Linked DNA regions of Homo sapiens: all the other regions are linked to region 1. The links come from fine-mapping of genetic effects on gene expression. A gene starts in region 1. Each other region holds a variant in brackets. All regions are shown on one strand. Distances are from middle to middle. Region 1 holds the start of ADAMTS2 (ADAM metallopeptidase with thrombospondin type 1 motif 2). Region 2 overlaps ADAMTS2 (ADAM metallopeptidase with thrombospondin type 1 motif 2). Region 3 overlaps ADAMTS2 (ADAM metallopeptidase with thrombospondin type 1 motif 2). Region 4 overlaps ADAMTS2 (ADAM metallopeptidase with thrombospondin type 1 motif 2).

The links. PIP is the estimated chance that this variant, and not a neighbour inherited with it, causes the effect.
Region 2: its variant is the best candidate, but not a certain one, in a credible set for the expression of ADAMTS2 in lung (TOPMed, PIP 0.62).
Region 3: its variant is the best candidate, but not a certain one, in a credible set for the expression of ADAMTS2 in subcutaneous fat (FUSION, PIP 0.61).
Region 4: its variant is the best candidate, but not a certain one, in a credible set for the expression of ADAMTS2 in spleen (GTEx, PIP 0.52).

The regions. Positions count from the first base shown.
Region 1 is chr5:179,342,471-179,347,923 of GRCh38, reverse strand. It overlaps ADAMTS2 (ADAM metallopeptidase with thrombospondin type 1 motif 2), which reads left to right and starts at 2,463. Exons shown (of 22, transcript NM_014244.5): 1 at 2,463-2,734; 2 at 3,763-4,157. The coding sequence starts at 2,596. It overlaps LOC105377759 (a long non-coding RNA gene), which reads left to right. Exons shown (of 3, transcript XR_941311.3): 2 at 826-978; 3 at 1,145-1,563.
Region 2 is chr5:179,270,875-179,276,327 of GRCh38, reverse strand. It overlaps ADAMTS2 (ADAM metallopeptidase with thrombospondin type 1 motif 2), which reads left to right. Exons shown (of 22, transcript NM_014244.5): 3 at 3,264-3,417. Among named protein-coding and RNA genes, the nearest start is that of ADAMTS2, 72 kb to the left of the region's middle. The variant G/C (reference allele first, on the strand shown) is at 2,250.
Region 3 is chr5:179,309,583-179,315,035 of GRCh38, reverse strand. The region is part of intron 2 of ADAMTS2 (ADAM metallopeptidase with thrombospondin type 1 motif 2); the gene reads left to right. Among named protein-coding and RNA genes, the nearest start is that of ADAMTS2, 33 kb to the left of the region's middle. The variant G/A (reference allele first, on the strand shown) is at 3,129.
Region 4 is chr5:179,172,669-179,178,121 of GRCh38, reverse strand. All of the region lies in intron 5 of ADAMTS2 (ADAM metallopeptidase with thrombospondin type 1 motif 2), which reads left to right. Among named protein-coding and RNA genes, the nearest start is that of ZNF354C, 120 kb to the right of the region's middle. The variant C/T (reference allele first, on the strand shown) is at 3,356.

The DNA of each region.
Region 1 (5,453 bases):
TGTGTCTGCAAGTCTCCTCCACCTCCCTGAGGGTTTAACTGTGAAGTTAGGTGCATGTGAGCCTTGTTCATCCACCACCCTGGTGGGTGACAGTGGGGGCACTAAAGGAAGGGCCAGGCAAGGGTGCTGCTCCATCCCCAACTCATCCCTGGTGGCAGGGGCACGGGTGATGTGGGAAGAATCAGCTGCCTGGGGTTATTCAGTGTCCAGGAGACAAATTCTTTCCCCCAAAAATATCCCAAAGCAAGTATCCCAAAGTATACAAAATAATTTAGCTCTGTGAACCTGTTAGAAGATGCCATCAACTCATAAAGTCAGAGTTACTCCTTTTCAGGCCTCCTTTCATCCTTCCAATCACATCAGAACAACGACCTCTGTGCTAGTCCATCTTAAGGCTTTTGTAACACTTACTAATCAGCTTCAGCCTTCGGTATCTTTAGCAGGTCAAAGTATCTGGAATTTGATAACATTTCTCTTCTTGTTGTATTTATTTTTAGCAATTATCTTTGATTTATGGAAACATGGTGAGATGCTGGCTTTTCCATTTATAGTAGTGATTTAAAGTATCCTTTAAAAAATTGAAAAAAGTTTTAGGCGCTGTGTAAAGAAATACCCAACCATAGACACGGCAGGAAGGTGCAGAACATGCCCCTTGAAGTAGGGGCGGCTGCTGGTTGGGTTTCACTCGTGTTTCGAAGAGGATGGAAGCGCTGACAACCACAGGAGGAATGCGTCATGGGTTCCAGGACAGCAACTGGCTGGACCCAACTCTGGGCTGCCTAGCTCCCCCAGCCTTCACAATTCAACTCATGCCACCTCTTACAGGAAGTCCTCCTGGATGCCCAGCTCTGGAGTCATCTCTGTGGTATACTAGGATTCCAGTTCCAACTTTCTCTGGAACCAGTTGGGTCATCACAGGTCACGAGAGCAGATGCCTACAGAGAGTGAGGAGAGGCGGGACCTGCCACAAACTGCAAGGTAAGTGCCCATTTAATGGTTGCTAAGCAGGACTGTGGGGCTAGCGTGGCCACATCTTCCAATATCTCAAGAAAAGTTACCAATCTAAATTTCCATGTGACATCTCACCATGCCTGGGAGCTGGATCCAGCCTCGGGCACCCTTAGGTGACACAGAAAGAGTACAGCTTGCAGGTGAAGATGGCTGTCCAGCTGCGATGCTCTCACACCCAGGACCCACAATCGAAAGAACCAAGGACGTGAGATCACAGTTAGAGCCTGCTGTGTAAGTCGTGTTTCCCCCAACGACTGGGACCTCCTGGCCAGCAGGGAGAGGCCTGAGTCATCTCCGGGTCCTCTGCCCCTGGCCAAAGCAAAGACCAAAGCCCTGGCCACACAGACCTGGGGCAGGGCAAATGAGAAAATCAAAGGGGTGGGTGTTCACCCTCTGGGGAAGTGAGGCAGAAATTGGGGGTCCCAGGGCAGAGATGATCAACAGCCTGAGAGGGGGCTCTCAGGCAGGCCCTGGAGAGAGGCCGCTGAGCTCAGACAGCATGGGAGGATCAGGGCCTTGCTGGAGAGGAGGGACTGGGGAGGGGTTCCGGTTGGCAACGGGCTCTAACAGCAAACTGGCCCCAGAATGGGCCCAGGTGTCCTTGGATGCTTGGGTGGAAAAGGTAGGCAGAGCTTGGAGAGGCCATTTCAGGTTGGGGGCCGGGAGTGCAATGGCGGGAGGACAGAATGCATACGTGGGGTTGAGGACAGGTGAGGGCAGGAGCCTGACTGTGCTCATGGGCAGAGAGCCCAGGTCTGGCAGGAAGAGGCTGTGCTGAGGCTGCAGCGGAGGGATGGGAAGGCAGATGGGGGACAGGGGACAGGGACTTCAGAGGAAGAGGAACTGGGGACTGAAGGAGCCTTGCCTCTCTCAGTAAGGGCAAAAGTTGATCTTTGGGGTCGCGCCCTGGGTGTACCCTCCTAACAGCATCTTCTGGCCTTTGCGGCCTCTATTTGGGCATTCGGCCTGGCTCAGACCTTGGACCCAGTAGTCAGTCCCCCCTCCCCTTTCATTCCCTCACCCTGTCCTGCCCCAGAGCACAGAGACAGGGGGATGCACCCCTTGAATTCCAGGGCTGATGGGTGGGACCCGGCACCCCAAGGGCTCTCTAGGTGGGGACGTTCGGCCGGCGCCGCTCCTCGGAGGTTGTGCCCCTGGGGTGGCTGGCGGCGGGGCTCCCCCGGCCCGGCCCGCGGCGCTTCTCTGCCGCCGCCTCGGGGTGTCTCTGCTTCGCTGCGAGCCCGGCACCGCGGCGACGGCGGCGCGAAGAGGGAAGCGGGCGGCGGCGGCGGCCGCGCCAAGATGCGCCGGGTCACCGCAGGCTGAGGCGCCCGCCGTCCCCGCCCTCCCCCTCGCTCGCCTCCCTCCCTCCCGCCTGCCTCCCTCGCTCGCTCGCTCCTTCCCTCTCCCCGCCTTCCCTCCGCGCTCCCCCGCCCGCCCCTCCGCGCCTCGCCTCCTCCGCCCCGCGCCCTGCGGTGCTGCAGCTGCGGGCGGCTCCAGCTGCCCCCAGATGTGGGCTGGGCGGCTCGCGGGGAACTTTCGCGCCGGCTGCGAGTGCGGGGCCCCGGCTGCAGTCCGGCTGCCATGGATCCGCCGGCGGGAGCCGCTCGCCGCCTGCTCTGCCCCGCGCTGCTGCTGCTGCTGCTGCTGCTGCCGCCGCCGCTCCTGCCGCCGCCGCCGCCGCCCGCGAACGCCAGGCTCGCCGCCGCCGCCGACCCCCCAGGTAGGTGCGGCCCGGCCCCTACTCCCCGGGACCCCCGCCGGCCTGGCCCTGTCCCGCGTGCCCCGCCGCCCCCTCCCCAGGCGTCGTCCAGCCTGACTTGGGCAAACTCCGCGCGCCCCGCCCGGGGCCAAGTTGGCCAACTTCGGGGCCGGGTTGGTCGCGCAGGGGGCGCCCCGCACCGCCCCCGAGCGCCTTGGGCCGGGGGAGCCTCGGAGCACTGGCGGCTCCTGAGTCGCGGAGGGTGGGGACGGAGGGCCGGGAAAAGCCCCGCGGCCAAGAGCGCAGAGTCAGCCCCAGCGGGTCCGAGGGGGGAGCCAGGGCGAGGCGGCGCCGGGGCTCGCGTCCGGGGACGCTCCGGAGGAGCCGGCTGCCGAGCGCGTAGCCTTGGGCCCTAAGGATTGGTTGGGGCGCCCCGCAGGGAATCCCCGGAGATCGGAGGGACCCTGTTCCACCCCTCCCAGTCCTCGGGCGCTCGGGGAGACGGGGCCGGCAGCGGGCTGAGCGGGAGCTGGACAGGCAGGACAGGCCGCTCGTGCTCGGGGAAGCCGAGACTCCGCCGCTCCGGAGGCTGGCGGTGAGGGCACTCGGGCGGCAGGGGCCCGCCGAGGGGTCGTGGCACACGGGTAAGGGGGCCAACCCGGAATGGCTTCCGAGCAGCTCCACGTCCTGCCAAGGACGGTAGGTGCAAGGGTCGGGGGACTCTCTGACGGGGTCGTCCCTTCGGGCACGGGGAGGTTCCCACCGAGCCCCAACCCTGAACGGGGCAGGGGGCAGAGCTCTTGGCAGGCAAGGTCTCCGGAGGAGGGAACGGCTGGGGAGTGGCGGAGCCCCGGAGTGGTGGCCCTGTTAACGCCCCTTCCCGGTTGCAGGAAAGCCGGGGAGGTGCAGGCTGGCTTCTGGGGTCGCCTGGCGGAATGCCCCTTCCCTTCGCAGTGGGGCGGGGTCTGGGGGGGCGTGGCTTGCCGGCGGGTCTCTGAGGCACTGGGGCTCCGTGGTCTCCGCCGATCTAACGCCCCTTCCCGTTGCAGGCGGGCCCCTGGGGCACGGAGCGGAGCGCATCCTGGCGGTGCCCGTGCGCACTGACGCCCAGGGCCGCTTGGTGTCCCACGTGGTGTCGGCAGCTACGTCCAGAGCAGGGGTACGAGCCCGCAGGGCCGCCCCGGTCCGGACCCCGAGCTTCCCCGGAGGCAACGAGGAGGAGCCTGGCAGTCACCTCTTCTACAATGTCACGGTCTTTGGCCGAGACCTGCACCTGCGGCTGCGGCCCAACGCCCGCCTCGTGGCGCCCGGGGCCACTATGGAGTGGCAGGGCGAGAAGGGCACCACCCGCGTGGAGCCCCTGCTCGGGAGCTGTCTCTACGTCGGAGACGTGGCCGGCCTAGCCGAAGCCTCCTCTGTGGCGCTCAGCAACTGCGATGGGCTGGTGAGTACGCACTTCTCTAGCTCCTTTCTCTCCGCTGCTCTCGCCTGGGTTTTGGAAAAGGGTTACCTGGGAGTCCCTTGGGAGGGCAAGGCCTGCGCTGAGGACTTTCCGCGCCCTTCCCGTGCTTTAGTGAGCCTCGTGCTCCAACTGAAGGGCTTGGCTGGAAAGCAGGTTGTTTTGACTGGTCTGAGCAGGGGGCCATTTATGCATGGGGAGCGCCCGGGTCTCCAAAAGGCTCAGCAGGCAGGAGCGTGCGCCTCTCTCTTTTGCCTGCCTGAACAGGTCTCTGGCTTGCATCCGGGGGTGGGTCCGTGTATGTGTGTGTACCTTTGTGAGTGTGTGCACATGTGTTGTGGAACGTTGGTGTGTACCTGCATCTGGGTGCCCGTGCACCTGTGTGAACATGTGCGTGTGCCAGTGTCTCTTGTGCACGTATGTGTCTGGGTTTCTGCACATCAGTGTGTTGAGCATCTGTTGAGTTTGTGTCCGTCCTTGTGCATACTGGCGTGATATGTGTGTGGTGGACTTATGGGCTGGCAGTCAGTCTTCCTGTTTCCTTGCGTGCGGGTAATACCAGCCCAGGGAGCTGGCAGTGATGCTGAAATGCCCAGTTAGCCCTCTGCCCCTTGGCTGACCGGGAATCATTGGTTTTTCTGCTGTGGTTTCCTGTTGAACTCCAGCTGGTTCTTTGAAAAGTTGGTTTTCTCTATTTTGAGCTGAGGGGTGCATTTGGAAATGAAGGCTCTAGTGCCCATGAGCTGCTCGATCTTTTGGGGGCAGCGCCTGAAGGACAAGAGAGAGGCTAGGGGATCCCTTTTGAGACTGCCTGCGCCTCTCTAGTCCTGTGACTGGAGCTCTGGGAAGCTCTGCTTCCTGGAGAGGGCAGGAGGGACCGTGGCTCAGCACAAGGGGGCCTCAGAGGAAGCCTGGATCGATGCTGAGGGAGGAGGCTGACATTGGCGGTGCTCTGTCCGGCTGCCCGGGGCCTGGCACACAGCAGAGGCCACTGCAGTTTTCTATTTTGGATTGGGTGTGTGGTGGTCAGGCTGGCTGTGCTGGCCAGACATCTGAAGCCGCCCACCATGGGTTCCGCTCTAATTGCTACTCAGGGAACTCCTGCCCCGAGTGAGTGGCCACTCTCCCAGCCCCCGTGGCCCCTGAGCACGCCCGTACTCGGGCAGCTGAGGCTCATCCTACAGTCTGCAGAGCCGGCAATTACACCAGGGCTCTGCAACCACTGTCATTCTTTTTATGGAGACACAGAAAATATCACTTGTTGCTTTGGAAAATCACTGC
Region 2 (5,453 bases), 72 kb after region 1:
AGCCTTCTCCACACCACGCACCGGGACCATCAGTGCTGGACCCTCCCAACTCCTGCACTGGTAAACACACTGCCCCTGTGCCAGTGGACAGGCCTGGCTGTGTTCTTCCCGCCTGCCTGCTCGGTGCCTCCCTTGGGGGACGTGGCCTGCAGCTTTGGGGTCATCGGTTCGCTCATTCCACAGGCATCTGCTGAGTCTTCGCCAGGCCTGGTTGAGCCCTGAGACCCAGGGATGAGTCAGAAGCGTGGGGCCTGCAGGGTTCCCACCCCCTCTTCCGCTCTCCTCCCACAGCCCTGCTGACCTCCTTCTCCGACCTCGGTCTTGCCCTGGTAACTCTGGTTACCACTGCCTCCTAGGCCTCTTCCCCAGAAGCCCAGGATGCCTGAGCCCAGAGGGTCCTGCGCCCCTTGCCCTTCTTCTCATGCCCCTCGGAGAATGGCACCCACTTTGCCGGCCACCCACCAGGACCCTGAATTACTTTTCTGCGGCTGCTGTAAGGAACCACTTAAAACAGCAGGAATTCGTTCTCTCACAGTTCTGAGGCCGGACGTCCGAAGTCGGTATAACCTGACCCAAATCCAGGCATCGGCAGGGCTGCGCTCCCTCTGGAGACTCTGGGGGAGGACACTTTCTGGCCTCTGCCAGCTCCTGGGGGCTGCCAGCATTCCTTGGCTTGAGGCCACATCGCTCCAATCTCCAAAGCTGGCATCTGGCATCCTCCCTGTCTGCCCATGGCCTCGTCCTCTGCGCATCTGCCTAATCCCCCTCCACTCCCCGGCATAAGGAAGTGGGCAAGGACTGCATTCAGGGCCCAGCCAGCCCCAGAGCTGACCTGATCACACCCGCAGAGTCTCTTTCCACCATGTCCACTACCCTCACAGCTGCCAGGGATGGGGGCCTGGGTAACTTTGGGGGCCGGTTCTTCAGCCACAGACCTGGAAGCCCACCAGGTGCTTCCTCCTCCCTCCCATCTCAGCCGGCTCTACCCTACCACGTCCTGTCCATTTCGCTCCTCACCTCCTTCATACCTGCCACTCGTCCTTGTCTCTCATGCTCCCGTCTGGACCATTACCCCTCTCCCAGGTGCCTGTAACACCTTCTCCCCAGGACCCCAGACCCATTTTTGTTCCGCAGCCCATTCCCCCTGCCGCAGCCACCATGCTTCTGAACTGGAATCAGATCAAGGCTCCCCCCAGAAGCCCTGGGCTGCCTACAATCTCCCTCACCAGCCCCCTGAGTGATGGGCCACCGGGCACCGTGCCCTTGATGCTCCTGTCCACCCACCTGGTCAGCTCTTCCCACCAGCTGTGCTCCGTCCACCTCCCCGGCCATGGCATGTGCGGTTTCCCCCATATGGAGCACTGGTCCTCTCTCTGACTCTTTGCCTGGCCAGCACAAAGGGATTGGGTGGGTTTGGGTAGATGTCACCTCCTGCCGGAGGCATCCTTCATTCTGGAGCCAGGCCTGATGCTGGGCTCTGTGTTCCTCCAGGCCCTGCACCTCCACCAGCCCCTGCCTGGCACATCAGCTTCCCGAGGGCCCAGGCTGAGTGCGCCGGGAGGCATCTCCAGCCTCCCTCGCTACACTTGAGGCTAGGGGCAGCCGCCCAGCAGGCCCTGGGGGGCACTGACTGCATCTCGGTCTGCAGAGGCTCCCAGCCAGCAACAGGATGGGGCTCACCGAGCACCTGGGGTCAGGGAGAAGGAGGGGCAGCCCGTGCGCCACCGTGCCCCCCCACAACCAAGATGATGATATGGCAGAGGCCATCATGAGGTTACTTTGGGGGGGGTGTGGTTTCCGCACATCCAGATGGCAGGTGCCGGGGGCTGCCCACCAGAGGGCACACTCCTAACTGGACAGGGGACCCCGGCCAGCGCCAGCTAAGCTGGAGTGTCGATGGGTGCTGGAAATGCCAGCTTTTCTGATTTTCAAGAGAGTCTGGAAATCTGGTCGTTTATGTGAACTCTCCTGTTTCTTAAGTTTGGCAACAAATTCAAGCTTTTAAAATCCCCTGCATGGGTCATAAGCTTGTGATCTGAAGGAAACACTCTGAAGGCTGGACACAGTGTGCACTTCCAGTGTGAGACCTTGGTTTATGGATAATGGACCAGAAGATAAAAGTGTAGGAGCTGGAGTTGTCATGGGATGGGTGGACCTGATGGTGCCAGCAGGCTGGATGGCAGGGTATGGCAGGGGAGGGCAGGGTATGGCAGGGGAGGGCAGGCTGGATGGCAGGGGAGGGCAGGAGA[G/C]GTGAGGGGGTCTGAATCAGGCCTCGAAGGGGGAACACAGGTTTACCAGATGGCCGAGCTGGGGATGGGGTGGTGGGGTGGGAGAATGGGGATTCCTGAGTTGGCAGCATGGGGTTCAGGGGCTGGGTGGCTCGGCAGGGTGCACCCAGCCCAGTGAGAAGCATGGGGTGGTGCAAGCCGCGGTCTGGGAGGGTGGGGCAGGCCAAGAGCCTGAATGCCAGCATATAGAGCAGCCTGAGTCCCAACGGAAATGAGGACCCAGCGAGGAGTTTGTAGTCAGGGAGGGTGCTGGCTGGCCTAGGGGGTCAGGGGCAGCAGTTCAGCTGCCTGTAGAGTCTGGGCTGGTGGCTGACACAGAGAGCAGGAGAGACAGTTGGGGGGCAGTAGGGACTGGAGCCAGTTGCAGGGGCATGTGTTCCATCCAAGACCCGCTGTGGTCAGGGCCTGCGTTTCCAAGGAAAGCTGGGATTCCATGTTCAAGACATGAAATCTCATCATTCTGAGTGTTAGCTTCAGAGCTTTAAAAATATTGTTTGGCCCAGATGGAACATGTGTGTGGGCAGATTCAATCCCCGGCTGGCTGTTTTGACCTTTGTCTTGGACTCTGGGCTCCTGGGAGTGGGGGCAGCACTTGGCCCATATTGATGCACTTTGGTGGATGCCCTCCTGGGGACACGCACAGGCCCACAGCTGCCCTTGAATGTCTCCCTGCTTCTCTGGACGGTTTTGACTTTATAAACACAGTAACTTTTCTGAAAGCAGACAGGGTTGGTGTATAGGGGTGGAGATGACCCAGACAGAGGCCCCTTTCCTAGACAGGGTGGGCGGCGGGGGGCGGCCTCTGGGACCACATGTTCATACCCTCCGGCCAGCCCAGGGTTCAAGCTGAGCACCAGCTGGGGTGCTGGGCAGGGTCTTCAGGTGGGAGGTACTCCCTGAGGGGGTCTCCTCGCTGTTCCCCTTCCTTGGTCTTTTGTGTGCTGGAAATCTGATCCTGTTGTCTTTGTCCCGCAGGCTGGTCTGATCCGGATGGAGGAGGAGGAGTTCTTCATCGAACCCTTGGAGAAGGGGCTGGCGGCGCAGGAGGCTGAGCAAGGCCGTGTGCATGTGGTGTATCGCCGGCCACCCACGTCCCCTCCTCTCGGGGGGCCACAGGCCCTGGACACAGGTGAGGCTACTGCAGGTGGGCAGGCTGTGTGGAGAGCCCTCTGAGGCCCTGGTCCCCAGGGGAGCATCCCAGAGACTCAGGCAGCTCTCCACAGACCAGCTTGGCTGCTGAGGCTGAGCCCCGGTCTCAGTGGCTCAGAAATGGGCCAGCTGCCTGGCTGACGGCAGGGCGTAGCAGGGCTGCTGGGGCTGGGGCCTCTGTTCTGGGTGCATGTGGGTGACAAGCAGCCCAGACACCTCTGCCTTCATGTCTGGGGCCTCCATGGTGGACTATGAAGGCTGTCCAAGGGCCCATCTTCTGTTGCCTAAAGGCAAGCAAGTGTCGTGGAGCGGGGCGGGGGCCCCCGGCCAGGCCTGAGTCCAGTGCCTGCGTCTCTGAGTCTGTGCCTGTGAAGAGGCCTCCAGAGCCCCAGACAGCGCCTCTCCTGCTCTGTGCTGCCATGGTCCCTGGGAGGGTGCCTGTGGTAGGTCCCAACCCTCACCTGGCTGCTCAGGGAGAAAGGCCCTGCATGCTCTTTCTGGATCCCTGGAGGCATGTGCCCTACAAGGACTCTGGAGGTGCTCCCAGCAGCCTCAGCAGTCTCTGCACAGACTCATGGGCGTCTGTCTTTTTCAACTCAGAACCCACGTGTGCCCTGGGCCCAGAAACGTGAAAGGAGCTGCCAGGCGGCCATGGTGACAGTCCATGACTGTCGCCTCAGATCTGGCCTCACTGTGCCAGCCCACACCTCCCAGCATCCCCCAGTCTCTGGTCCTGGATTGTGGTGAAGCCAGGGTTGGTGTCTGATGTGGTTCTGCAGGCCCATAGTTCTCAGGGTCCCCCGTGTGGTCAGGGACTCCTGGCCTGTGCTTGGCTCTTGCTGGGAGAGTGGGAAGCTGCGAGCTCAGCCCTCAGCCTCTGGTCAGGACCCCTGGGTGAGGAGAGTCTGGAGTCTGGGGCCCAGGATCGGGCACACCTGCACGTTCACAGCGAGTGCTCCAGGGGCCTGGGCTGGGCCAGCCCCCGTGCTGTGATTTACTAAGGTACTCCCGTCACTCCATAGCAGCCCCGCCTCATTTACTGTAGGTCTGTCTGACTTCCTAGCTTGACAGAAAAATTGGGTACAGCCTGGCAGGCATACTTCTAATTTCATGAAACGGCATCAGATACCTTTGCAAAGGAATTGTTCCATCAGGAAGCCCAATGTACTCTGGAGCCAATCAGTGCAACCGGTGGCCCCTTGTTCCTTGGTGACAAATCAGCGTCTGCTATGCTGCAGACAGCCGGGCCACTGGGTACTGCCTGCCCAGCCTTTTCCAGCTGTGGTCTCAGCCTCGACTTATCCCCACCCTTGGACTATTTTGCAGGGAAGGAAGGAGGAGTAATCTAGGAGGGCCAGCGTGGAAGGGGCTGAGCGAGTGCTCCAGACCCGGGGGCAGGGCCCCAGCTTTGCTCCTTGCTAGCTAGCTGCTGTCGGGCAAGCCCAGTGGCATTAGCAACCCCTGTGTCCCCGAGAGCTCAGGGGCTGGTCACTTGTGCTGTGGGCTTGGTGCTTCTGGCTGGCCTCTCCTGGAAGATTCAGGGTGGTTCTGGGGGCCTCTGCTCAGGCGAGGTGAGCTGGCCACGTGCCCTTGGCCATGTCTCTGATCCCAGATTCCATATGGTGCTTGTCTTCCTGAACATGGCAGCCCTTCCCCCACAGCCTGGCCGGCCTTGCCTTATTTTCTGGGCTTCTGCTGGTGTTTGGCATCTTCTGCTGAATCCTCCCTCCACCCCCACCCCCAATCCACATATCTTTAATGAGAACTTGAAATTCAGAACACAGGAAAGGAATTTCAATCTCAGAATAAGCCCAGAAACCATTGGCCTTAGAAGACGCTGGGTGAGGCCAGCTGCCAGGTCAGGGGTGAGGCTGGGCTGGAAGGTGGGGGTTTGGTAATGGGCTGTCGGGGAGGAGGTGAGCCTGTCCAGCCTTAGCTCCAGGCCTGGGGCCCAGGCTGTGGATGTGAGCGTGGGCCTGGGGCTATAGGTCTGGATCCCAGAACTTGGGGCTGGGG
Region 3 (5,453 bases), 33 kb after region 1:
GTGTAGGAATCCAGTACCACTTCCAGGTTCCTTCCAGGCTTGAATAACTGGGAGAAGGGGGCGTAGCTGGCTGTGATTAGGCTCTGGGAGGGGAGTCGCTTAATGTCAGGAAAGAGAGTTACTTCTAGGTAGGCCCTGGGCTTGAGGCTCCCGGGCCATGCTAAGGGACATTCCTATGTCCCTTGCAGCTCTTGGTTGGGCCTGGCACAAAAAAGTGTGTGCCCAAGACTCCTGTCTGTAGGTGGAGGTCTGCTGGAGTAGAGGTTGGGGGCACTGGCGGGGGACAGGAGCCCCACCTGGGTGCAGGAAGGCTACAAGGGCTTGGTGGAAGAGCGTGGAAGCCCCCAGAATCAGGGGCTTGTAATTCTGGCCCGTCACCCTGTGGGACAAGCACATGGGCCTCTGCATGCTGTCTCACCTCATCTGTAAAAGGGAGACAGTCCAGTGAGGATGTGGGCCCGTGAGAGAGAGACACGGCCCGGGGGGCTGCAGAGGCAGGAGCGCTGTGGGTGGGAGGGCTGCTTCCTGGGCTCTGAGTACAGCACGGTGCATTTACTACTCTTGTCTCAAAAAGCAGGGAAAACTGAGTATTCCGGCCACGCCACGCCACGCCACGGGGTGGGGAGGAGCCTGGCCTTGCCGCTCCCTGCACTCTCCTCTGCGCTCACTTAGCTCAGAGCTGGCGGCCGCCCAGCTCCCAGTGAGACGTGGCAGCCAGGAGGCTGAGGCCCAGCCAAGCCCCAGATGGCTGGCGAGAGGTGCTTCCCCCGAGCTGAGCAAGACAAGGACAGGGCCGACCCGGTGGGAGGGGCAGGATGGGACCAGGAGCCCGGGAAATGCCAGTCCTGGCCCTGGCCCTGGCCGGTCTGTGTGCTCCCAGGCTGCGCCCAATCCGAAGCCTCCGTGTGGATGCAGAGCCTGAAGCTGGAGGTCTGGGCATAGGCAGGGGTGTGGGGTGTGTGAGGAACCCCCCCGCCCCACCATCAGGTTCTGCCTGGGAACTCCTGGTCCTGGAGCTGACACCCCTGCTCCGGCCAGGCCCTCCTCTGTCTCGGTGTGAGTGTGTGTGTGCACGAGTGTGAATGCGTGTGCGTCCCCTCTGCTGACACCCCTGCTCCGGCCAGGCCCTCCTCTGTCTCGATGTGAGTGTGTGTGTGCACGAGTGTGAATGCGTGTGCGTCCCCTCTGCTGACACCCCTGCTCCGGCCAGGCCCTCCTCTGTCTCGGTGTGAGTGTGTGTGTGCATGAGTGTGAATGCTTGTGCGTCCCCTCTGCTGACACCCCTGCTCTGGCCAGGCCCTCCTCTGTCTCGGTGTGAGTGTGTGTGTGCACGAGTGTGAATGCGTGTGCGTCCTCTCTGCTGACACCCCTGCTCCGGCCAGGCCCTCCTCTGTCTCGGTGTGAGTGTGTGTGTGCATGAGTGTGAATGCTTGTGCGTCCCCTCTGCTGACACCCCTGCTCTGGCCAGGCCCTCCTCTGTCTCGATGTGTGTGTGTGCATGAGTGTGAATGCGTGTGCGTCCCCTCTGCTGACACCCCTGCTCTGGCCAGGCCCTCCTCTGTCTCGGTGTGAGTGTGTGCATGAGTGTGAATGCGTGTGCGTCCCCTCTGCTGACACCCCTGCTCTGGCCAGGCCCTCCTCTGTCTCGGTGTGTGTGTGTGCATGAGTGTGAATGCGTGTGCGTCCCCTCTGCTGACACCCCTGCTCTGGCCAGGCCCTCCTCTGTCTCGGTGTGAGTGTGTGCATGAGTGTGAATGCGTGTGCGTCCCCTCTGCTGACACCCCTGCTCTGGCCAGGCCCTCCTCTGTCTCGGTGTGTGTGTGTGCATGAGTGTGAATGCGTGTGCGTCCCCTCTTCACAGGCCACTCCTGAGGAGGGAGCCCCGGTAAGGCTTTAGGCTGCTGGCTGGTTCTGGGGTTGCCATGAAGTCCTGAAATGCTATTCTATTGCTGTTTCTTGATGTATCGGGTTTCGATGTTGTCCATTGACTTCCTGCCCTGGAAGAGGAGGGTTTAGCTCACTGACAACACTGCTGCCCCTCCCAGCCCCATTCTTCTACCATAATTCTCTCACCACTTTTAGTCCATATCAGAGTTCCCCATTGTATTGGTTTCTGAGGCTGCCTGCAAATTACTACAAGCTTGCTGGTTTGAAACATTAGAATTGTATCCTCTCACGGTTCTGGAGGCTGAAATCAGTTTCAACAGGGCAAAACGCAGGTGGCGGCAGGGCCGCGCTCCCTCCGGAGCCTCTAGGGGAGGATGCGTCCTGGGCTCTTCCAGGTCCTCGTGGCAGCCAGCAGTGCTTGGCTTGTGGCCTCTTCGCTCTGGGCTTCAGGGCCGACATCCTCCATCTCCCTCTGCTCTGCCTGTACGTGGCCTTCTCCTCTGCCTGGCTCATCTTGCTCTGCCTTCCTCTGATAAAGAGAAGTGTGATTGCATTTAGGGCCTGTCTTAGTCCATGCAGGCTGCTATAGCCAAATACCATAAACGGAGCGGCTTAAAAGCATCGGAAGCTTATTTCTCACGGTTCTGGAAGCTGTGCATATGGTTGTGGTGAGGGTCTGCTCCCTGGTTCAAGAAGGCATCTTGTTGCATCCTCACATGCTGAAAGGGTGAGGGAGCTCTCTGGGGTCCCTCTGATCGGGGCACAAATCCCATTCGTGTGGATGGAATCTGGTGACATAATCACCTCCCAAAGGCCCCACTTCCTAATATATCACCTTGGGGGAGTAGCTTTCAACATCGGAATTTGGGGGGAATATAAACATTCTGTCTATCCCTGGGCCCACCCGGAAAATCCAGCAGTCACTCCATCTCAGGATCCTTGGACTCACCGCATCTACAAAGTTCTTTTTTGCCATGGAAGGTAACATTTATGGGTTCCAGGGATTGGGACCCGGACGTGTCTTCGGGGGCCATTTTTCAGCTGACCACTGCCATGGTCGTCTGACTGTTATATTTGCACCTCTGCAGCTTCTAACATTAGCCTGGGGCAGAGGGTCTAGAGTATGCCCTTAGCGGCACAGGGTTCCCATGCCCCTTCTCCCTCCTCCCCACTGCTGTCATTTCTACCTTCCCTTCAGCAAGGCAGAGTGTTGTTAAATGAAAAATGATTCAATGATACTT[G/A]TTAAAGCGCGGTAAGGCGGACTTTATTCAGGACCATGGAGATAGACACAGGAACCGCTAGAGTGGGCTCTTGCAGTCGGGGAGAGAGACTGGGCTCAACTCCGAATACAGCACGGGCGAGTGGGGGGTGATAGCCAAGGAGCAGGGTAGGGGCCAGGGGATGGGGAATTACTAAGAGCAACATCAGGGGTCGGGGATTCTAGCTAAACTCACCTAACATGATTCTAGCTGAAGACAGGCTGGGGTGACCAGACATCACCAGAGGGGTGATGGGGAGGACGAGCCTGACCAGATATCAAGGGTGATCAGATATGGAGAGATGGGGCATTCATGACTTAGCAGAGTTCTTGATAAACTGGATCTTACAAGGAAGTGGGCGAAGGAGAAGGTTCAGGAGCTGGACTAAAGTTTGGTCAAGCAGGAGAGTCCCTGTCAGTGTCCACTGTTCAGGTCCTTTGTTGTCATTGAGGCTTTGCTGGCAGGTGGATGTCCCTGTGATTCTTGGCATGCTGCTCACCACTGTCTGACCCTGGCCCATTGCTGTGCCTCTGAGCCAGGCGGCGCCTGCCCATGGGCTAGAGAGAGCAGAGTGGAGGGGCATGACCCTGCACAGGACAGAGCTGGACGAGGCCCTTCCAGAGAAGTGGCCAGCCAGAGGCCAGCTCCACCTGGGCCAGGAGCGCCAGGCCCTGGGGGAGAGGGATGGGGACGTGGCCTTCCTGTTCAGAGGGCGGGGGAGGCTCGGCCTCAGAGTGAACATCTGCTGAACATACGCATCCTCCCCTTATATAATGCTGTCTGGAAAAATGGTTTCCTGTTGTTGTTGAGATAGGAGTCAACGGGCCCTGCACTCGGTGGGTTGGGGGGTGGGGGGCTGGGGAGTGGAGAGGGTGGTCTTTGGCTCCAACCTGGGGTGGAAAGGGGCGGAGGTCCAGAGGACCCAGCCGGCAAGTGGGTTGGGGCAGGCAGGGGCAGGTGGGGTTGGGCACCCTGCTGAGCTGCTGTCCTGGGCCATGCCTCCCTGACCCCTGCAGTTTGGCCATGGTCTGGGGTGGTGGCCCTTTCACTGTCCCCAGGAGGACTAAGGCCCTGATGCCTCTGCGTCCCCAGGGCAGGGCAGTAGGGCCTCTACACCCACCTTTGAGGGACCCTGGGAAGGTCTAGAGCAGTGTGTCCCAGACTTCAATGTCATCAGACCACCTGGGAACTTGCCAAAATGCAGGTTTTAGTTCAGCTGGTCTGGATGGGGCCTGGATTCAGCATCTCTAACAAGCTCCCGGGGGCCCCCAGGCTGCTCCAGGCCACATTTTGCATAGCCAGGCTCTGCACCACCATCCCTCACCCCAGCCGGGATTCTAGCACCGGTGGGTGGCCCAGAGACGCCAATCAGATTCTTCTGTGGACTTGAACCTCTCCTTGTTCCTGGAAATCCTGAGATATTTAATGACCAGGGGAGCCCTCTGGGGCTCTCTAGGCCATACTGTACCCTGCAAGGCAGCCTATGGGGGGGCTTCGGAAAGGCTTGTAGATGCCTCCTGATCCTCCAGCTTGGAGCTGGGGGGCTGAGCCCCCAAAGACAACAAGACCAGTTCTCTGTCTTTCTTCACTGTGTTTCTGCCTTGTGGTATGAGCAAGGCATGCCTAGATCCCTGCCCGCTGGGAGCTGCAGCCTGGTGGGGGAGGAGGGCCGTCCACAGGCCCCCACAGCAGACAGCAGAGCATCTCAGCGCCTGAGCGCTGTGGGGACATGGGACGTGCAGGGAGCCCTGGGCAGGCGTAGTCCGGGGTGGTCTCTCCTGGAGGGTCCTGGGTGACAGGAAGGAGCAGTCAAGGCATCAACCTGGGCAGATCCACAGGACATTCAGGGGCACCCTTGTCTGTCCCCAGGGCCGCAGGCTACTCCCAAGGCCTCCCTGACTTGAACCCCAGAAGCCAGAGGGCAGGGGTGGGGCAGGGAGGACAGGAGGGACATGCAGTGGGGGCCTGCTGGGTCCAGGGTCCTGCCCTGCCCTGAGGCAAACCCAGGGTGTTTTGCCCTCAGAGCTCCTCCCCTATGCATTTTAAATAGAAGAAACTGAGGCACGGAGAGGTGACCCACCCGGTCAAGTGGCAGGGCCAGAGCCTTTTTTTTTTTTTTTTTTTTTTTTTTTGGAGACTGAGTCTTGCTGTGTTGCCCAGGCTGGAGTACAATGGCATGATCTCGGCTCACTGCAACTCCGCCTCCCAGGTTCAAGCGATTCTCCTGCCTTAGCCTCCTGAGTAGCTGGGGTTACCGGTGCGTGCCACCATGCGTGGCTATTTTTTTTGTATTTTTAGTACAGACAG
Region 4 (5,453 bases), 170 kb after region 1:
ATGAGAGATGGACAGAGTTATATCCTCTTTTGGAAGTTTCCAAAAATGGGAAACTCCTGGTCCTGGGGCTAGAAAGGGGAGAAAAGATTATCCCATTGATTGGTCTGGGTGCCAGGTGGCGGCTTGCATTTTCCCCCAGGTTGCTCCTACATTGTTTAAAAAGAAGAATTTTGTAATTGACTAGGGTTAATTGCTTACCAGTGCTGGCAAAGCTTTGGATCTTATTTGGCCTGAAAAGTGTCTGCTCTTTCCCAGTCTTGAGTACTTGATGGAATAAAGCCTCCTTTATTAATTACTCCTTAGCAGGCTCTATGCTAAATTATCCCGACCCTAAGCCTTTTCTTTTTCTTTTTCTTTTTTTTTCCTTAACTGCCTCAGGTAGGTAGAAGGAGTATGTGATCACAGTCAGAACATTTGCAGAAGAGAGTCAAACCCTGAAGGTGAGAATTTGAGGATCTCTATGCCAGGGACACGGAGATCCTGGGGAAATTGAGGATTTCCTGGGATGTGAATATTTCAAAGCTGACTCCAAAAAATGGAGAATATGCCATAAGTCCCATAACCATGGAGGGAACTCAAGTTCTTCACCTTTTCCAAAGTTTTGCCAGTGCATTCATACTCATTTGCAAGCATTTATCAGGCAAGACTAATACAATACCCTGTAAACTCATGTATTCTGAAATCTACCCAATGTGTCTTTCGTAGTCAATGGGACCCTTATACCCAAAGATGCCAAAGGTAGCCCGTCAGGACAAAGTACAGACCTGTCTCACTTCTAAAAATAGAAGTAAAAATCCCAAGGCATTAAGAGTTTAATTGAATAATGTATAAAGAGAAACTTCTACCGTGATCATCTAGGGCTTATCCTAGGAATGTGGAGATTGTTTAATATCAGGAAATCTATTCATACAGTTCATCACATCAGTTTCCAAATGACAAAACTCATCCTCTAACAAATACTGTTTGAAGGGCTTCTGTGTGGGAAGTGCTGTGCTGGGAATATTCACTGGCATAGTCTCTGTCCTCAGGGGACCGCTTCCAGAAGGCAGATCTAGACAAGGAAACAATTGTACCAGGGCTCAGGGCTGGATGGAGGAGACGCGGGTCAGGCAGTCTTTCCTTACAAGGTCAGGAAAAGCAACGGGAGGAAGTGACCGTTCCACCCACACCTGAAGATGGTCCAGTGAAGTCACCAGCATAGAGATGCTCTGAGTTCATAGGCTGGGAGGGGAGGGAGGGCAGCTGAACCCAGAGGGACGAGCACAGGGACAGGAACAGCAGACCCAATGCCAAAGACGTCGGAAGGAGCCGATCGCAAGGAGCAGAGCAGACCTGCGTCTCCCGCCAAGGGGTTTGGCTTGCCCATGAGGGCAGCTTTAAGCAGTGACACGATCCCATGTGCATTTCTAAGAAGATCACTGGCTCCTGTGTGCAGAAGGGGCAGGTGGGAGCAGTGGCTTAGGAGACAGTCACTGCCATCAAATGGGGGATGCTGGCAGCTGGACTGGGACCAGGCCTGGGTCCAGGGATACAGACAGGAGGACAGAGGAGGCCACTTCGAGAGGATGTGGCACTAGGTGGGTGAAGGCGGAGAGACTCTCAGCTGGGTAGATGATGGTATCAACCCCTGAGATTGGGGAGCACAGGAGGGAAGCTGAAGAGGTCAGCTGAGATGTGCAGTTAGAGGTACCTGGTGCCATCCCAGCGGAGGAGGCCAAGAAGATGTGGATGTGGGTCTGGAGCCCTGCGGGGTCTGGAGCTGGGGGTAGCAGAAGCAACTGCAGGCATGAGGAGCTTGCTGCCTAGGGGGAGCCTGGGAGAGAGGCCTCAGGGCTCCAGTGTTGAAGCCTCTGGCAGGGCAAGGGCGTGACGGCCCCGTAGCCCCTCACAGGGCACTCCTCCTTTTCCAGATCCCCAGAAAACTAGTAACAGAGGGCAACAGGACAACCAAGATTGTATTTAAAGGCGGAAAAAGAAGCACATTTCCCTAAAAGTGTTCTGCACAGCGAATTCTTAGGATATGAGTAGATGTTACAGAGGACTATAGAGGGGTCCCAAGGTCAAAGAAGTCTGGAAAATGCTGGTCAAACAAAGGAAAATGGGCATTCCTGGGGGTGAAATTTCCCGGAGACTTTCCTGTGGAGCTGTGCATGGTGTACCTCCGAGAGTCCGAGCAGTACAGGTGGTCTCTGAAAACTTTCTCCACGGAAGCTTCTTGCTCAGCAGATCCGCAGCCTGCTGAACCTGCTCTGGGGAGCACTGCCCTGGAGATAGTCTTGGAAACAAACAAACAAAAAAGACCCATAAACTAGTTACTGTGGTTCTGAAAATCCTAGATACTTGTATGTGACATGAAACTAGTATTGGAAAAGAGCAGAGACAAATTCTCATTGTTTGCTGTTAATCATGTGTCGGGAAAACCTAAAAGAATCCACGGTACAACTTGTAGAGTTAGGAGAGGAGTCTGGTGATGTGGCCAAATATCAGACCATTGTTTAAAAAATCAGTAGCTTCTGTGTGAACCAAAAACAACAGCCTTGGTAGTGGGGAAAACAGGGAGAGAAAATTTCCATTATGGTAGTAACCAAAAATGTAGAATACCTGGAATAGTCCTGACAAGACAATGGACCCATTGGAAGGAAATTGTACCTGATTAATGATAGGAAGAAAGTGATCACAAATGAAGACACAAATGCTGTCCTCATGGGAAGCTGGGTATAATCGAGAGGTTGGCCTTTCCCAGATTCATAGTTGGAAATGTTATGAAGTGATTCTAAGCACCATCTAGGAACACGAACGGTCAAGAATGGCTGAGACAGCTGCGGAACCCAAGCAAGGAAGAGACATCCTCCAAAGGAACATGAACGGTCAAGCATGGCTGAGACAGCTGCGGAACCCAAGCAAGGAAGAGACTTCCTCCAAAGCAACATGGACGGTCAAGAATGGCTGAGACAGCTGCGGAACCCAAGCAAGGAAGAGACTTCCTCCAAAGGAACATGAACAGTCAAGAATGGCTGAGACAGCTGCGGAACCCAAGCAAGGAAGAGACTTCCTCCAAAGGAACATGAACGGTCAAGAATGGCTGAGACAGCTGCGGAACCCAAGCAAGGAAGAGACTTCCTCCAAAGGAACATGAACGGTCAAGAATGGCTGAGACAGCTGCGGAGCCCAAGCAAGGAAGAGACTTCCTCCAAAGGAACATGAATGGTCAAGAATGGCTGAGACAGCTGCGGAACCCAAGCAAGGAAGAGACTTCCTCCAAAGGAACATGAATGGTCAAGAATGGCTGAGACAGCTGCGGAACCCAAGCAAGGAAGAGACTTCCTCCAAAGGAACATGAACGGTCAAGAATGGC[C/T]GAGACAGCTGTGGGACCCAAGCAAGTAAGAGACTTCCTCCAAACATCTTGTAAAGTGAAGATAATTAAAATAGTGCCATATGTGCATAAACTTTCATAGACAGTTCAGTTGAATAAAATAGTTGAAAATACCCCTCTTACAAATAACCTACCGTGATAAACACAGAATGCTTATTGTGTTATAAATAAATATATAACATAAATTTAATAAATAGGAAATTAAATTATCATGTGACAAATATAAGCCAATACAACATTCAACTATTTAAATCACACAAATCAAGAAGAAAATATTGGTTGTCAAGAGCTTTCTAAGCATAAATCCAATTGAAGGAATTGTAAAGGGGAATATGGATATATTTGGATAAGTATAATACCAAACTTCTGTCAAAAAACACAATGAAAAGGCAAATGACAAGCAGGAAAAACATTTGCAATGTGATAAATATATCTTAATATATAAAACCTCCTCTAAATCATAAGGAAACAAAATTGTCAATGGAAGGAAACAAAGAAAAAAATCCAAGTGGCTAAGAGAAAGCCCATATGGAAAAATATCTAACTCTACTGTTAAAGAAATAAATAATACACCATTTATAAAGCATCAACCCTGTTAAGATGAAGAGGGATTTATGGCTGGGTGAATGAAGCAGGCACACTTTGAGTATGAGTACAGATATTCTAAGGAAATGTAGCAATATTTATCACTGCCCTTAAAAATGTTCTTTTTTTCTTTCTTTTTTTTTTTTTTTTTGAGATGGAGTCTTGCTCTGTTGCCCAGGCTGGAGTGCAGTGGCGCGACCTCAGCTCACTGCAACCTCTGCCACCTGGGTTCAAGTGATTCTCCTGCCTCAGCCTCCCAAGTAGCTGGGATTACAGGCACCTGCCACCACACCCAGCTAATTTTTTGTATTTTTAGTAGAGATGGGGTTTCACCAGGTTGGCCAGGCTGGTCTTGAACTCCTGACCTCAGGTGATCCGCCTCGGCCTCCCAAAGTGCTGGGGTTATGGGGCGCGAGCCACCGCATTTGGCCTTTAAAATGTTCTTGATGTTTGCCCCCAGACATTCATTTCTGTGACCCCAGACATTCATTTCTACAACTCTGTTCCAAAGCAGTGATCCCAGCTGTGGGCCAAGTTTTAGGAACAAGACAAGGGTCATGGCATTATCTCTCATGTGAACAACAGCAAACAACCTATATTGTCCAATAATAGTGGTCTAGTTAAGTAATGATAAACCTATGTGGTAGAGTATTAGGCTGCCACAAAATTGCATTTTCGAAACATGTTTAATGGCATTGGGAAATGGTTACAGTCTAAAGCTGTTTGTTGTTTGAAAAGCAGGATCTCAGTTTTCCGTATGATCTCAATTTGGTGTACAAATATATTTACCAAAAAGACTGGAAGGAACACATCAAATGTGAACAGGATTTCTCTGTGGGCAGTAGGCTAATTAATTTTCATTTTCTTCTTTGTACTTTACTGAATTTTTTAAATTCAATATGATGAGCATGGTTTTTATTATTATTATTATTATTATTATTATTATTATTAAGAGATGGGGTCTAGCTCTGTTGCCCAGACTAGAGTGGAGTGGTGTGATCATAACTCACTGCAGCCTCCATCTCTTGGGCTCAAGGGATCCTCTCATCTCGGCCTCCCAAGTAGCTTGGACTACAGGCACGCACCACCACACTCGACTAATTTTTTTTTCTTTTTTTTTTTGTAGAGACAGGGTCTCACTCTGTTGCCCAGGCTGGTCTTGAACTCCCAGGCTCAAATGATTCTCCTGCCTCTGCCTCCCATAGCACTGGGATTACAGGTGTGAGCAGCTGAGCCTGGACCAGCATGTTTCTTTTATAAACAAAACACTGCATTTTAAATTTGTGAAATTTAAATTTTTTAAATGATTTTTTAAAAAATCATTTAAAAATGGTAGGATCCAAATGATGCCGTTTGACTGAATTCAGCACTCTGGAGAAAGGTCTCCGGTGGCATGCCACAGGGCTCTGTCACGCTCAGTCCTTTATTTCTGATTTCAATGAAGACATCAAAGAGAATTCATGCTTTCCCTTGGCACGTCATCTCTGCAGTGGGC